2 separate regions of the Homo sapiens genome follow, and region 1 is linked to region 2. The links come from fine-mapping of genetic effects on gene expression. Tissue or cell type: prostate. Region 2 holds a variant in brackets; the other region holds the start of a gene. All regions are shown on one strand. Distances are between the middles of the regions.

Region 1 (8,088 bases), 25 kb before region 2:
TGCTCCCCTAGAGGTCTGAGTAGAGGAGCACTTCAGAAGCAAGCCACACCCCCATCGCCCACCCTGCGAGGGGAACAAGGGAACCTTTCCCGTTTCACCACCATGCCTGGCTAATATTTTTGTATTTTTAAGAGACAGGGTTTTCCCATGTTGGCCAGGCTGGTCTTGAACTCCTGGCCTCAAGCAATCCACCTGCCTCAGCCTCCCAAAGTGCTGGGATTATAGGCATGGGCCACCACACCCAGCCACAGTCATCCAATTCATAGAGACAGAAAGTGGAATGTTGGGTGCTAGGGGCTGAGGGAGGGGAATAGGGAGGGAGCGTTTAATAGGTATGGAGCTTGTTTGGGAAGAACAAGTTCTGGAGATGGATGGTGGTAATGGTTCCACAACAATGTGAACGTACTTAATGCTACCCAAGGGTATGCTTAAGATGGTAAATTTTATGTTATGTACATGTTACTACAAACCACTGCCCCCCAACCCCGGCCGAGGCGGGCAGATCACTTGAGGTCAGGAGTTTGAGACCAGCCTAGCCAACATGGAGAAACCCCATCTCTACTAAGAATACAAAAATTAGCCAAGCATGGTGGCGTGCACCTGTAGTCCCAGCTATTTGGGAGGCTGAGGCAGAAGAATGACTTGAACCTGGGAGACAGAGGCTGCAGTGAGCCAAGATCGTGCCACTGCACTCCGGCCTGGGTGACAGTCTCAAAAAAAAAAGTTCCTCCAAGTTGGGCATGGTGGCACATGCCTGTAGTCCCAGTTACTTGGGAGGCTGGGGTGGGAGGATGGCTTGACCCCAGGGGGTGGAAGCTGCAGTGAGCTGTGACTGTGCCACTGTGCTCCAGTCTGTGAGACAAAGCAAGATCATATCTCAAAAAACAAAAATATGGCCCAAACATGATTAGGGCTACGAGTGAACATTAGCCTTTACGCCAGTCACTGGGGCAGTGGGGCATGACTCAGTTTCTCCCCATCACTGCTGACTCTACATGTTTTCGTTCCTCCCATTGCAATTGAGGAAACTAAAATCCACTGTCACTTCCCTCTCGCCTTCCCTCTTCTAGCAACGCACATACTCCACACCAGGCACGTATGACATATTCAGGTTATAAAACCTGCCTTTGGGTGAGTGGTTTTTTTGTTTTGTTTTGTTTTTTTCTGAGACGGAGTCTCGCTCTGTCGCTTAGGCTGGAGTGCAGTGGCACGATCTCAGCTCACTGCAACTTCCGCCTCCTGGGTTCAAGTGATTCTCCTGGCTCAGCCTCCCCAGTAGCTGGGACTACAGGCACGCGCCACCACTCACTGCTAGTTTTTTGCATTTTTAGTAGAGACAGGGTTTCACCATGTTGGCCAGGCTGGTCTCGAATTCCTGACCTCAAGTGATCCGCCTGCCTCGGCCTCCCAAAGTGCTGGGATTACAGGCGTGAGCCACTGCGCCTGGCCAGGTTAGTGTTTTGATCTGCTCTTTTCTCCCTCTTGGCTTGGACCTCATTCCCTGGCCAGCTCAGACAGCTCTCTGATGTTCTGCATTCTACCTGAAGCTGCTAAAGACCAAAATAGCCACTGAGCGTGTGACCTGGGGTGTGGGCTTCCAAACAGGGCTCAGGGGCAGTCTAGAGAACTCTGCCCTTGGTGTTGGAGGAATTCGGGGGTGGAGCCAGTAAACACCATAGTACCAGCTGGGCACGGTGGCTCATGTCTGTAATCTCAGCACTTTGGGAGGCCAAGGCAGGCAGATCACCTGATGTCAGGAGTTCAAGACCAGCCTGGCCAACATGGTGAAACCCCATCCCTACTAAAAATGCAAAAATTAGCCGGGCACGGTGGCAGGTGCTGGTAGTCCCAGCTATTCAGGAGGCTGAGGCAGGAGAATCGCTTGAACCCAGGGGCCGGAGGTTGTAGTGAGCCTAGATCGTGCTATTGCACCCCAGCCTGGGCGACAGAGTGAGACTCTGTCTCAAACAAACAAACAAAAAACCATAGTGTCTTGGCGAATGATGGCAAAGTCAAAGTGGAACGGGCTATCAGTGAACCACACAGTCAGGAGTTCTGGCTCATGCCTGTTATCCCAGCACTTTAGGAGGCTGAGGCAGGAGGATTGCTTGAGCCCAGGATTTCAAGACCAACCCAAACAGGCAACATAGCAAGACCTCGTCCCTACAAAAAATATAAAAATTAGCCGGGCATGGCAGCACGCGCCTGTAGTCCCAGCTACTCGGGAGGCTGAGGTGGAAGAATTGCTTTAGCCTTGGAGATTAAGGCTGCAGTGAGCTGTGATCGCTCCATTGCTCTCCAGCCTGGGCAAAAGAACAAGATCCTGTCTAAAAAAAAAAAAAAAAAAAAAATTCGTGACCCAAGTCCAAGGTCCAGTCCTGTTTCTGAAGATGTGGCCAGAAACTCAGCTTTCATTTTCTACCTGTTTTTAGAGGAATTCTGGTCTCTGATGAATGTTGGCAGAATGTGCCTGGGGATGTGCTGGGTGTTGAGACGCAGCTCTAACAGAACAACGCTTCCTCCTCTAGAAGTTCTCATCTCTATGTCGGAGGAAACGGGAAGCCAACCAGAGAGGCTGTGACCATACTAAATGATTTCTGCTTAATAATACCTGGGGAGGGGGCCGGAGGCAGTGGTTCACGCCTGTAATCCCAGCACTTTGGGAGCTGAAAAGGGTGGATCACCTGAAGTCAGGAGTTCGAGACCAGCCTGGCCAACATGGTGAACCTCCCTCTCTACTAAAAATACAAAATTAGCTGGGTATGGCGGCACTCGCCTGTAATCCCAGCTACTTGGGAGGCTGAGGTGGGAGAATTGCTTGAACCCGGGAGGCAGAGGTTGCAGTGAGCCAAGATCACACCACTGCACTCCAGCCTGGGTGACAAGAGTGAAACTACGTCTCAAATAAATAAATACATATATAATTTCTGCTTAATAATACCTGGGGGACTAAATAATCTGTACAACAAACCCCATGACACGAGTTTATCTATATAACAAACCTGCACATGTACCCCAAAACTTAAAAGCTAAAAAAAATTAAAAATGATTTCTGGCCAGGTGTGCTGGTTTACACCTGTAATCCCAGCACTTTTGGGAGGCCAAGGTGTGCGGATTGCTTGAGCTCGGGAGTTCGAGACCAGCCTGTGCAACACTATGAAACCCCCATCTCTACAAAAATACAAAAATTAGCTGGGTGTGGTGCCACACACCTGTAGTCCCAGCTACTCAGGAGGCTGAGATGTGAGGATCAGTTGAGCCCTGGAGGTCAAAGTTACAGAGCTATGATTTTGCCACTGCACTCCAGCCTGGGTAACAGAGTGAGACCCTGTCTCCAAAAAAAAGAGAGAGAAAGGAAATTATTTCTGAGCTTTATTGCTATGAAGAGGATGGAACCAGGGAATGAGATGGAACCACTGGGGGGTAGCAGTGAGGTCATTTCAGCCAAGGAGGGCCAGAAGGAACCCTCAGAGGAGGTAATAGGATAGCAGGGAGGTGATAGCCAGAGAAGGCCACAAGGAGAAAGTGACAGTTCACCCCTCGGAGGAGGTGACAGCCAGGACAGGAGGAGGGCCCCTGGGAGGAGGCGACATTGGAACACTGGAGCTGAGGCCTGAAGGAGGCCAGCTTCGCAGGTACCTGCGGGGTGTGTTCCGGCAGAGGGAACAGCAGGTACAATCGCCCTCCCCCATTAGCCTCCTAGGACCATGGGGGCCTGCAGAGAAACTTCTGGCACCACACAAATATGGTTGTCGTGTTTTTCCTTTTTTACTCTGTCCTCCCCCACCCCCGCCAACTTCCTGGCCTGAATGCTGCTCCTGTGACCCCTTGAGGCGAGTGACCTCGGGGAAGTGGCATTCTGTGCCTCAGTTTCCTTATCTGGAAAACGGGCCTTGCTCGCGGGGACTTCCCTCCCTAATTCTGCGCAGTATGCATGCATAGGGCAGGCCCTCAATGAACCCTTGCAGAATAAAGGACCGGCTCATCCCCAGCACCTGGCTCAGTGCGTGCAAGCGGCTACACACTACGGCATAAGATGTTCCCATTTTGCAGACGGGGAAACGGAGGCTGGGGAATACCGGGCCTAGCCGACGGGGGCGGGGCGCAGGGCGCGCACGCTGCGTCTCGGGCCCGGGGGCGCGCACGCCGAGCGGCTGACCGGGGGCGAGGCCGGGGGCTTGACAGGGGCGTGGCCTCGCGCGGCCGAGAGGCTGCAGCGGCAGCAGCTGTCGCGCCAGTCGCAACAGAAGCAGGTCCGAGGCACAGCCCGATCCCGCCATGGAGCAGCCGAGGAAGGCGGTGGTAGTGACGGGTACGCTGGCTGATGGGGGCTGTAGCGGCAGCGGCCGGGGGCAGAGGCGGGGGCGGCTCCGGGACTGCGGGGCCGAGAGGGGCAGGTGCTGGAAGTCCTCTCAGATTTGGAAGGTGTCATCACCCGCGGGAGCCCCGCGCAGCCCAGGCTTCCTGGAAAGTGGAGGAGGAGGAGCCTTGGGGGTCCCAGGGTCGGGAGTCAGGGCAGTCGGGCGCGGGGCTTGGGGGGCCGGGCAAAAGCCCGGCGCTGCGCAGGCCCCCCTGGCGTCCTTTCCTCCCAAGGTGGGGATGGTGACCCTCCTGGCACCTGCCTCCTCTGTCTGGCCTGCGGGCTGGACTGGACCCTTCCTCCCTGCCCCTTCCGAGGTCCAGCCTGTCCCCACACCGCTCCCCCAACCCCTGGCCCCAGGGGACAAAGGCCGATTTGCGGGCAGGAAGTGTCCCAGTGACAAATGAACCTCCCAGTCACTGCTCGCCGCGCCCTGCGCTCCTGGGGGGCTACTCTCCCAAGGCAGGGGCAGGTGGGGGTCCGGGGACCTCGGGCTCTCCCAGCTGTCCCAGGGACTGTCTTCAGCGGAAACCTTTTTGTGTTTTGTGCCAGGGCTGTTTGTTGGTGAGTCAGGGCCCCTGCTGTCACCGACTCCCCCCCACCCCCAAACCAACTGTTTCTCCTCCCTGAGACTCCGCCTCGGGGCCACGTGGGGCGCCAACTTCCGCTGGGGCCTCAGAGTCAAGGAGTGGGGGGGTCATTTTGACCTGCTGTCTGGAGGGGTCAGAGTGGGAAATCCAGCAAAGGTGCACACAGGTGTTTTGTGGCTGTTGAAGGGAGATTGAGGCTGATCCAGGAGATTCAGGGAAGAAGGAAGAAACAAGGCACCTGCTTAACAGGTGTGTATAATTGGGAGGAGGGTCACTGCCCCCATCCCTTCCAGCCTTCCTTTATCTGGTTATTTATTCCAGCACTTTTTGCATGAGCTGATTACATCTTTACTGTCTCCATTTTGCAGAAAGGGAAACTGAGGCTCACAGAGGTCATCCAGTTTGTAAGGGGCTGAGCTGAGACTCAAACTTTGGCTGTACAGAAGGATAGAGTTAGGAGGTCCCCTCCTGAGCCACAGCCCCTACCTGCTATCCCAGGCTACAGCATCTCTGCATAGCATTCATATCCTGTGGGATCACTGGCCCAGATGGACCGTATTTTTTTTTTTTTGAGACGGAGTTTTGCTCTTGTTGCCCAAGCTGGAGCACAACGGCGCGATCTCGGCTCACTGCAACCTTCGCCTCCTGGGTTCAAGCGATTCTCCTGCCTCAGCCTCCTGAGTAGCTGGAATTACGGGCACGCATCACCCCATCTGGTTAATTTTTTGTATTTTTAGTAGAAACGGGGTTTCACCATGTTGGCCAGGCTGGTCTCAAACTTCTGACCTCAGGTGATCCGCCCGCCTTGGCCTCCCAAAGTGCTGGAATTACAGGCATGAGCCACCGCACCCAGCCCCAGATCTGGATTTGAATCCCAGCTTTTTCACCTTCTTGCTGTGTGACCTTGGGCAGCTAGCTTCACCTCTCTGTGCCTCAGTCCCTGCTCCTGGAAACTGGGCCTAGGAAACACCCTTGCCTGAAAGGGGATGTGGCCAGGCTTAATGCCAGGAAGATCACTTAGCACAGCCTTGGGCGACTGTCGTGTTTTGGAAAGGGGGCCTGGAGTTTGAGCTAGCAGGGAGGAGGGTGACAAGGTGAAATCTAGACAGCCTGGAGGGCTCATTCCTCATTTGGTGCCGATTCAGGGCATTTTGGGACAGTGACACAATAATTGTAGGTTGAGTCAAGGGGACCAGAGGAAGTGAAGACAGGATCAGGACCTTTTCGGAGGCAGAAGATACCTCTGGCCCCTGGCTGAGCATGAGGGGCAGGTGGAGGTGAAGACAGGAAGGGACTCATTGACTTCAGAGCGGACAGGTGCAGGACGGCGGCTCTGACGGGCCTCCAGGTGCTCCCAGAACTCAGGACCAGGCCCCCAATGTTGTCCTTGGCAGCTGCGCCCTGAAGCTCCTTTCTTGCTTCTCCAGGTGGGAGTAGCGGCCAGGCCAGGGGCAGACTGGGAAGGGCCACTCTTGGGTAATATATTGCTTTTCCTGTTTTTTCAGGATTTGGCCCTTTTGGGGAACACACCGTGAACGCCAGTTGGATTGCAGTTCAGGTAACTTAGATCCGGAGGGTGGGAGTCAGGCTTGGAGCTGGGCACACCCCAGAAAGTTATGGCATCCAAGAAGGTCCCCTTTTAACAAAAACTTTTTTTTTTTTTTGAGACGAAATCTTACTCTGTCACCCAGGCTGGAATGCAATGGCACAATCTCAGCCCACTGCAACCTTCGCCTCCTGGGTTTAAGCGATTCTCCCACCTCAGCCTCCAGAGTGGCAGAGATTATAGGTGGCTGCCACCACGCCCGGCTAATTTTTGTATTTTTAGTAGAGTCGGGGTTTCACCATGTTGGCCAGGCTGGTCTCGAACTCCTGACCTCAAGTAATCCTCCTGCCTCAGCCTCTTAAAATGCTGGAATTACAGGCGTGAGCCACTACGCCCAGCCAGCTCTTAAAAAACGATGTCGGATCCACATCTCTTCCTGGATGGTAACCACCGGAGCACACATCTGTTGAGTGTTTGTACCCCAGCGCTCTGAATCCTCCCAACAACCCATGCATAGTACGTGTAGTTATTCTTGTGCCCACTTAACAGAATAGGAAACTGAGGCCCAGAGGAGGGATGAAGGGAGTTCTCCGAGGTCACACAGCCAAGAAATGGGAGTGGCATTGCCTCAGAAGTGCCCCAGGCCCTGGCCAGCGGCTACAGATCTGGGTCTGGAGGGCCAGGTGTGGATATAAACGTAGCTGGTTTCCAGGACACAGCTGTTTATGTGGTGCTGGCGTCTACTTTACCTAGGAATTATCCAACTCTAGGATCTCCCTCTTTTTTTTTTTTTTTTTTTTTTGAGACGAAATCTCACTCTGTTGCCCAGGCTGGAGTGCAGTGGCGCGATCTTGGCTCACTGCAACCTTGCCTTCTGGGTTCAAGCGATTCTCCTGCCTCAGCCTCCAGAGTAGCTGGGATTACAGGCACCTGCTACCACGCCTGGCTACTTTTTTCTATTTTTAGTAGAGATGGGGTTTCACCATGATGGCCAGACTGGTCTCAAACTCCTGACTTCAGGTGATCCACCCACCTCGGCCTCCCAAAGTGCTGGGATTACAGGTGTGAGCCACTACCCCCGGCCAGGATCTCCCTCCTTTTTAAAAATCTTTTCCATTGACTCAGACAAATCGTGACTCAGGTTGGTTTCTGAACAGCCAAAGTGAGAATTCTCTGGTATGTTTTAGGCAGGTAATTCATGGTTCAGGAAGGACCAGGCAGGAATATGTGGGGTGGGGTGGCAGGGGAACATATCTTGACCTTGTAGGAAGGGGTACAGTGAGCCTCGCTGTCATCTCCTCGCAGCTGGGGGAGGAAAAGATGGCATATTAGGGGCCGAGGGGGGCTGTCATTCCTGGTGCCCTGAAGAAGATGCCAGTCTGCAAAACCTTTCTAGTTTCTTTTCCAGATGGAGTATTTTGTAGGGACAGGCTGGGGAGCAATGCACAGAGAGAAAGACGGAAGTGTTTTCTCGTTATATAAATCAGATCGGCAGAGACCAGAGCCAAACCCCTGTTTATCCTAGCCTATGAGCTGCCTGATTTAAAGTAACCTCTGTTCCCATTCCAGAATCCTAGATTTGGAGAAAAATC
Region 2 (8,000 bases):
CCCAGCTAATTTTTGTATTTTTAGTAGAGATGGGGTTTCACCATGTTGCCCAGGCTGGTGTTGAACTTCTGAGCTCAAGCAATATGCCCACCTTGGCCTCCCAAGGTGCTAGAATTACAGGTGTGAGCCTCCGCACCCAGCTCAATTTTCTTTCTTTTTTTTTAAAGACAAGAGTTTCGCTCTTGTTGCCCAGGCTGGAGTGCAATGGCAGAATCTCAGCTCACCGCAACCTCTGCCTCCCAGGTTCAAGTGATTCTCCTGCCTCAGCCTCCCAAGTAGCTGGGACTACAGGTGCCTGCCACCATGCCCAGAAAATTTTTGTATTTTTAGTTGAGATGAGGTTTTCAGCATGTTGGCCAGGCTGGTCTTGAACTCCTGACCTCAGGTGATCCACCCGCCTTGGCCTTACAAAGTGCTGGGATTACAGGCGTGAGCCACCGCGCCCGGCCACCCAGCCCAATTTTTTTGTATTTTTGGTAGAGACAAGGTGTTGCAATGTTGCCCAGGCTGGTCTCGAACTCATGGAGTCAAGGGATCCTCCCACTTCAGCCTCCCAAAGTGCTGGGACTACAGGTGTGAGCCACCATACCCAGCTTCCATCAGTCTCTTTATAAAATTAATTTTTAATCATAGGTAACTCTAGAACATATCCTCATATGTCTAATTGGGAAAAATTCTCATTCCCTCTCTTTTTCCATAGCGGTCCCTCTGATAAGTCAGACACGGAAACCATGAAGCTCCTACTGACTGACACGTTTCCGTACATATATACATCACTTGGCCTGCTGCTTTATGATTTTATCTTGTTTTGCTTTGCTTTTACGTGGATGGAGTCACATGGCGAAAGTCACACTTACTGAGAATTCTCATCCTTAGTTTTCATTTGTGAGCGTTCAACATGCATCTGGCGAGTTCTCCATTTTTTTCTGGCTGTACCACATTCCTTGTAAACAGATTCATAGGATTCCATGGTGTGGATAAACCAGAGTTTACTAAGCCACTCCCTGTCAGTGGGCTTTAGGTTGCTTTCTGTTTTCCTGCTTTTATACATAATACGATGGGGAGCATCCCTGTTTGTACTTTCTTGTACCCTTGTGCAGATGGTTCCTGAGGGTAGATCTAAAAACGGGAAATAGGCCAGGCGTGGTGGCTCACGCCTGTAATCCCAGCACTTTGGGAGGCCGAGGCAGGCGAATCACTCGAGGTCAGGCGTTCCAGACCTGCCTAGCCAACATGGTGAAACCCCGTCTCTACTAAAAACATAAAAATTAGCCGGATGTGCTGGCAGGCACCTGTAATTCCAGCTACTCGGGAGGCTGAGGCAGGAGAATCGCTTGAACCCGGGAGGCGAAGGTTGGAGTGAGCCAAGATCTCAACACTCCACTCCAACCTGGGTGACAGAGTATGACTCCGTCTCAAAAAAATAAATAAATAAAAATAAAAACTGGAAATAGGGCCAGGCACGGTGGCTCACACCTGTAATCCCAGCACTTTGGGAGGCTGAGGTAGGCGGATCACTACAGGTCAGGAGTTTCAGAACAGCCTGGCCAGCATGGTGAAACCCTGTCTCTACTAAAAATACAAAAATTAGCCAGACGTGGTGTGGCCCACGCCCGTAATCCCAGCTACTCGGGAGGCTGAAGCAGGAGAATCACTTGAGCCGAGGAGGCAGAAGTTGCACTGAGCTGAGATTGTGCCACTGCACTCCAACCTGAGCAACAGAGCAGACTCTGTCTCAAAAAAAAAAAAAAAAAAAGCCAGTGGTGGTGGTGCACACCTGTAGTCCCAGCTACTCAGGAGGGTGGGGTAGGAGGATCGCTGGAGGCCAGGTTGCACTCCAAACTGGGTGACAGAGTGAGACCCTGTCTCAATAAACAAAAAATGGAAATACCAGGTTGTAAAGTCTGGGTGATTATAATTTTACTAGCCTGACAAATTGCCTTCCACACGGGGACAACCAGCGTGCCTTCCCACCAGCAATAGCTCACTCTGCCCATTTCCCCACATGTGCCACAGCACTGGGAGTTATCAAGTTTTTTTTGTTTGTGTGTGTGTGTGTGTGTGTGTGTGTGTGTGTGTTTTAAAGAGACAGGATCTCACTCTCTCACCCAGGCTGAGTGCAGTGGTGCAATCATGGCTCACTGCAGCCTTGACCTCCTGGGCTCAAACAATCCTCCCGCCTCAACCTCCTGAGTAGCTGGGACTACAGGCACGTGCCACCACCTCTGGTGATTTTTTTTCATCTTTGCCAACCTGGGGAGGGAGGAGAGTGTTGTTCCATCTTGTGGGTTGCTGGTAAGGTCTTCCCTTGGATTTGGATGGGTGCTGTCACCTTGGTCTACGGATTGCCCCTCTGACCCCGTTTTGGTCTCTCTCTTACCCGCCACGCCCTGCGGCTTAGATATCTCTGCGACTTTACCTACTACACCTCTTTGTACCAGAGTCACGGTCGATCAGCCTTCGTCCACGTGCCCCCACTGGGGAAGCCGTACAACGCGGACCAGCTGGGCAGGGCACTGAGAGCCATCATTGAGGAGATGTTGGACCTCCTGGAGCAGTCAGAGGGCAAAATCAACTATTGCCACAAACACTGAGGGACGCTCAGGTCTCCTAAGACCTCATCCTGCTGGGGACCCCACGAGGGGACATCCACCCTCTGGGGTGTGGCCAGGAAAAGACAAGCTCTTCAGCTTGGGGATCCGATCTGGAAGAGAGATTCTGATCTGCCCACCTCCTCTTCCTCCTTCTCTACAAAAGCTCCGGTTGATTCGAGGGAAGTGGTGAAAATTTTTTTTTCTCCCATTTTCCTCCCTGCATCTGGGGACACAGCTGCCGTGACCAGGGAGGCCAGCCTGGGAGGTCCAGATGCCCAGGGAGAATCTTGGTCTGGTGAATCCATGAGCTGCGATACCACGGCTGGGGCCATATGTTCACCTGCTTTCCTGTCCGTTGGTGAAGGAATTTCAGAATTCATTTTATATCCAAGACTGGCTTTTACCAAATTTAAAAGCCTCTCAATGCGTCCTCGACCTTGAACTGTGCTCAACAGCCTGGCCCTTTCTGGGGCCACCCTGGGATATGGCTGGCTGGCTGGCTTTCTTTCTTTCTTTCTTTCTTTCTTTCTTGCTTTCTTTCTTTCTTGCTTTCTTTCTTCTCTCTCTCTCTTTTTTTTTTTTTTTAAATAGTGCTAGTTTGGGCACAGAGTAATTTATATTCCCTTTGGTTAAAATGCAGGCTTTTTAGCCAACAACAAAAGTGTTTTCCCCCCACCCCCACTCGCCCACCAGGGTGATGCCACTTTTGCCTCCTGCCCTGAAAATTGGACTTAAGATGCCATGTCTTGGCCAGGCGCAGTGGCTCATGCCTGTAATCCCAGCACTTTGGAAGGCCAGGGTGGGCGGATCACCTGAGATCAGGAGTTCAAGATCAGCCTGGCCAACATGGTGAAACCCTGCCTCTACTAAAAATACAAAAATTAGCCGGGCATGGTGATGAGTGCCTGTAGTCCCAGCTACTCGGGAGGCTGAGGCTGGAGAATCGCTTGAACTTGGGAGGCAGAGGTTGCAGTGAGCTGAGATTGCACAGCTGCACTCCAGCCTGGGTGACAGAGCGAGACTCTGTCTCAAAACAATTGGACTTAAGATGGCATGTCTTTGTTTTAGGGCCAAAAATGAGGCCCCCTTGCTTAAGGCATGGGGTCCGTGGCCAGGCAACGGGGTGGGACTGCTGCCCCAGATGTGGCCATGGGGGTCGTGGTCCTTTCAACACCAAGCTATGAGCTGTCGCCATGGAGACCAGGGCCACCTGTGGAAAGGCGGATTTTGTCTGCTTTTGACTTTTCTTTTTTAATATGTAAAACTCCACATCAGCGGAAA[C/A]CCCCCCCTACTTCTGGCCTGGAGCTTCAGGGTTTTGGTGCTGGGACGAGTTTGTTGTTCTCCTTAGCGGGGTGGCGCGGGGGGCTCAAAACGGGGGCGCGGGGGCTGGAGTTGGCAGAGCTCTGCATGTCCCGGCATGTCTGAGCAGGAGGAATTCCGGGCGGCCAAAGGGTTTTATGTAGATTGCTTTTGGACACTCGCCCAGGAGTCAGGAGTTGATTTTTATCTCACTTCCTGGTAACCTTGAACTTACCAGGCAGGGATGAGATGACGTAAACTTCCTCAGATGATGTAAGTTCAGCCACATCTTGCTGCCCATTAGGGAGAGAGGACGACCCCCACAGTGAAAGTAATTGAGTGAAATGCACGTTCTGGAAATCAGTTTCTATTTTGGCCTGGAGGAATGTGGCTATACTGCTTCCCTGAGTGTGACACAGTTGGAATCTAATCTTGTTGGTTTCCCAACATCTAGGTTTTTGTTTGTTTGTTTGTTTTTATGATAGGGTCTTGTTCTGTTGACCAGGCTGGAGTACAGTAGTGTGATCATGGATCACTGCAGCCTCTACCTCCTGGGCTCAAGTGATCCTCCCATCTCAGCCTCCTGAGTAGCTGGGACTACAGGCATGCACCACCACACCTGGCTAATTTTTAAATTTTTTATACAGACAGGGTTTCACCATGTTGCCCAGGCTGGTCTCGAACTCCTGGACTCAAACTGATCCTCCTTTCTCGGCCTCCCAAAGTGCTGGGATTACAGGCATGAGCCACTGCACCCAGCCCAGTTCTTTCTTAAAACAGCTGAGAGTTTTGTTTTCTTCAGCGTTCACCTTCCTTGTCTCCAGTTCCGATGCTGGCAGTGGTTCCTACCTCTGTTGGGTTTCTAGATAGTTTGGGAACGGGGTTGATGGGTTTCTGTGAAACACATTTTCCAAGTCTTGGGCTTTCTCTGGAGGGGAAGGTGGATGCTGGCGGGTGACTTGCAGTGGGCGCCTGGCAGTGGGTGTGGACTGTAACTGACAGGTGGAAATGAGTAGGGACACTATTGTTCCCTCCATGCCAGCTTTTTTTTTTGCTGGAAATGCCCCCTCCACACCCCTGGTAGCTCTGTGTCCTGAGAAATCCAGAGTGTGGGAGACATCACTGCATCTGTCCCCCCAGCTTCTGTGAAGGGAAGCTGTGGCCTCTTTTGAATGTGGGGAACAACTGAAGACTCAGGGGTCACCCAGAGGTCTGGTGGAAAGCAACTTCAGGTTTCATCTTGCTCTATTCCTCAAAGGTCTGGTCTGTGGGCCTCTGAGGAGAAAACAGGTCTAGCCAAGACAGGGACAAAATGGGGAAGGGGATGTGCCAGGCCTGAACTGAGCTAAGCACCTGCCCCGGGCTCCACACTTCCATCTTTCTTTTGTCTTCATTTCACCTCTGTGTTTAAAGCACTGTGTGACATAGCTCCTTAGAGATATAACCTATTGTCTGCTCATTGTCACGTGTGTGTGTGTCATCTTTGTATTCTTGCAGTGGTTTCACATTTCCTTACCCAGTCAAGCCAGTATCCCATCCTTCCTCATAATGCACAACATTTGGCTCATTTTATTTTTCTCATTGTTATTTTTTATTTTTATTTTTTGAGATGGATTCTCACACTGTTACTCGGGCTAGAGTGCAATGGCGTGATCTCGGCTCACTGCAACCTCCACCTCCTGGGTTTACACAATTCTCCTGCCTCAGCCTCCCGAGTAGCTGGGATTACAGGCGCCCGTCACCACACCTGGCTAATTTTTGTATTTTTAGTAGAGATGCAGCTTCACCATGTTGGCCAGGCTGGTCTTGAAATCCTGACCTCAGGTGATCTGCCTGCCTTGGCCTCCCAAAGTGCTGGGATTACAGGTGTGAGCTACTGCGCCTGGCCAAGTTTTTTACAAATATTTTTCTTTTGGTGGAACTCATCTGTGCACTCTCTGGTGTGTTTTTCCACCTTTGTTGGGTCTTGGCTTAAAATATCCTCATGTGGGCTAGGTGTGGTTACTCACACCTGTAATCCTAGCACTTTGGGAGGTTGAGGCAGGAGAATCCCTTGAGCCAGGAGTTCAAGACCAGCCTGGGCAACATAGCAAGAGATCCCATATCTACCAAAACATACAAGAATTAGCCAGATGTGGTGGTGCATGCCTGTGGTCCCAGATACTCAGGAGGCTGAGGCAGGAGGATCACCTATGCCTGGGAGGTTGAAGCCCCAGTGAGCCATGATCACACCACTGTAGTCCAGCCCGGGTGACACAGCAAGACTCTGTCTCAAAAAAAAAAAAAAAAAAAATCCTCATGCAAGAAGGGAAGGACCAAGTCCCATTCCCTCTTGCCTCATTTTCAGAGCCTGGGGTAGGGGCTACAGGTGGCATAGGAAGGGTCTGCAAGGTGGGTGGGACTTGGCAGGTGTTGGGAAGAGGAATAGGGGTGGCAAGTGTCAATGGTGAAAAGACAGGCTGAGGGGTGTGGTGGGAAGGCTGGGGGAGAAAGGTGAGAAGTGATTGGGGGGGCTTCCCTGATGAGTCCTCATGGAGGGTGCTGAGGCAGGGAACAGGGGTGCAGGGACAGTGATCAGGGCACCTGGTACCCTGACCAACTTGATGATGGCATCTCTTTTAAGATGCCCAAGTCTGCGCACTTTTATTCCTTTATTCGGCCCCTAGCACCCCCTCCCCACCCCAAAGAAGGTCAGTTGCATGCGTGTGGGGATGTAGCTCAAAAAAGAAATAAGATGGAGTGGAAAGGAAAGAAAGGAAGAAGCAGGAATTCAAGGTGGGTGGGCTGAGCTTGGGGCCACCTAGCCCACCTGCTCCAATCAAGGGCTGGAACAAACCTGAGGCCACTTGGAGAGGCAGGGCTGGGCAGGGACAGGGGGTGGGGGCCGAAATCACAGCTTCCCCATCAGAGCCAGATGTGTGAAGGAAATGTCCCAGATGGCAGTAGTTTCTCGGCAAGGAGGGGAATCCTGGAGATGGTTCATGTCTGTGATCCCAGTGCTTTGGGAGGCTGAGGTGGGAGGATTGCTTGAGCCCGGGAGTTCGAGACCAGCCCTGGGCAACATGGCGAGACCCCATCTCTACAGAAATTAAAAAAAAAAATTAGCCAGTTGTGGTGTCAAGCACCTGTAGTCCCAGCTACTTGGGAGGCTGAGTTGGGAGGCTTATCTGAGCCCAGGAGGTGAAGGCTGCAATGAGCCATGATTACACTACTGTACCCCAGCCTGGGCAACAGAGCAAGACCCTGCCTCAAAATTAAGAAAAAAAAAAGGGGGGCCAGGCGCAGTGGCTTATGCCTGTTATCCCAGCACTTTGGGAGGCCAAGGCAGACTGATCGCTTGAGGCCAGGAGTTTGCGACCAGCCTGGCCAACATAGCAAAACCCCATCTCTACTAAAAATACAAAAATTAGTCAAGAGTGGATGGTGCGTGCCTGTAATCCCAGCTACCTGGGAGGCTGAGACAGGAGAATTGCTTGAACCTGGGAGGCAGAGGTTGCAGTGGTGTGAGATCACGCCACTGCATTCCAGACTGGGCAACATAGCAAGACTCTGTCACAAAAAAAAAAAAAAAAAAGAATTCCCTGCTCTGCTTTTCTGCTCGTTGCTGGCATAGAAACATCTAGAACAGAAAGTATCCACTCTGGGGCAGATGGGAGAGCTGGAAAAGTAGATTCAAGATGCCTTTTAGTCTTGGAAGTTTCTTCCAGGAAGCAAGACCAGCTGGTATGTTTACACCTGCACTCCAGTGCCCTGGGGAGGTGACCAGGTGGAGGGGGATGGCTCATGGAAATCTGTCCCGCACAGCTGGCCCCCTTTTGGCTGCCACTGTCTAGACTGTTGGCCTTTGACCTCTCTGCCTCTTGTGGCGTCTGAACCTAGACGTCCCTTTTGGAGACAGCTGGACAAAGCCCTATTCTCCGCAGCCCCAGCCTCTATCCTGAGGCCTCTGGGAGCTGCGTGACGGCCAGCATGGGGTGCTGATCATGGTCAAGGAGGCAGGTCTTTGCCAGGTTGCCCCATGCAGCCACCCATCCTCAGCATCCTAACTTGAGGGGGCAGGAGAGGGCTTTGTTTTTATAATCCGGATTAAATTTCCCTTCCCTGGGC

What was found. PIP is the estimated chance that this variant, and not a neighbour inherited with it, causes the effect.
Region 1: it holds the start of PGPEP1, and the variant in region 2 is fine-mapped to the expression of PGPEP1 in prostate (GTEx, PIP above 0.99).

Annotation. Positions count from the first base shown.
Region 1 is chr19:18,336,404-18,344,491 of GRCh38, forward strand. PGPEP1 (pyroglutamyl-peptidase I) reads left to right here and starts at 4,195. Exons shown (of 5, transcript NM_017712.4): 1 at 4,195-4,312; 2 at 6,456-6,508. The coding sequence starts at 4,279. RefSeq lists a silencer at 4,044-4,233 and enhancers at 4,065-4,752, 7,532-8,088.
Region 2 is chr19:18,360,990-18,368,989 of GRCh38, forward strand. PGPEP1 (pyroglutamyl-peptidase I) reads left to right here. Exons shown (of 5, transcript NM_017712.4): 5 at 2,402-8,000. The coding sequence ends at 2,594. Among named protein-coding and RNA genes, the nearest start is that of GDF15, 21 kb to the right of the region's middle. RefSeq lists enhancers at 995-1,780, 3,930-4,224. The variant C/A (reference allele first, on the strand shown) is at 3,876.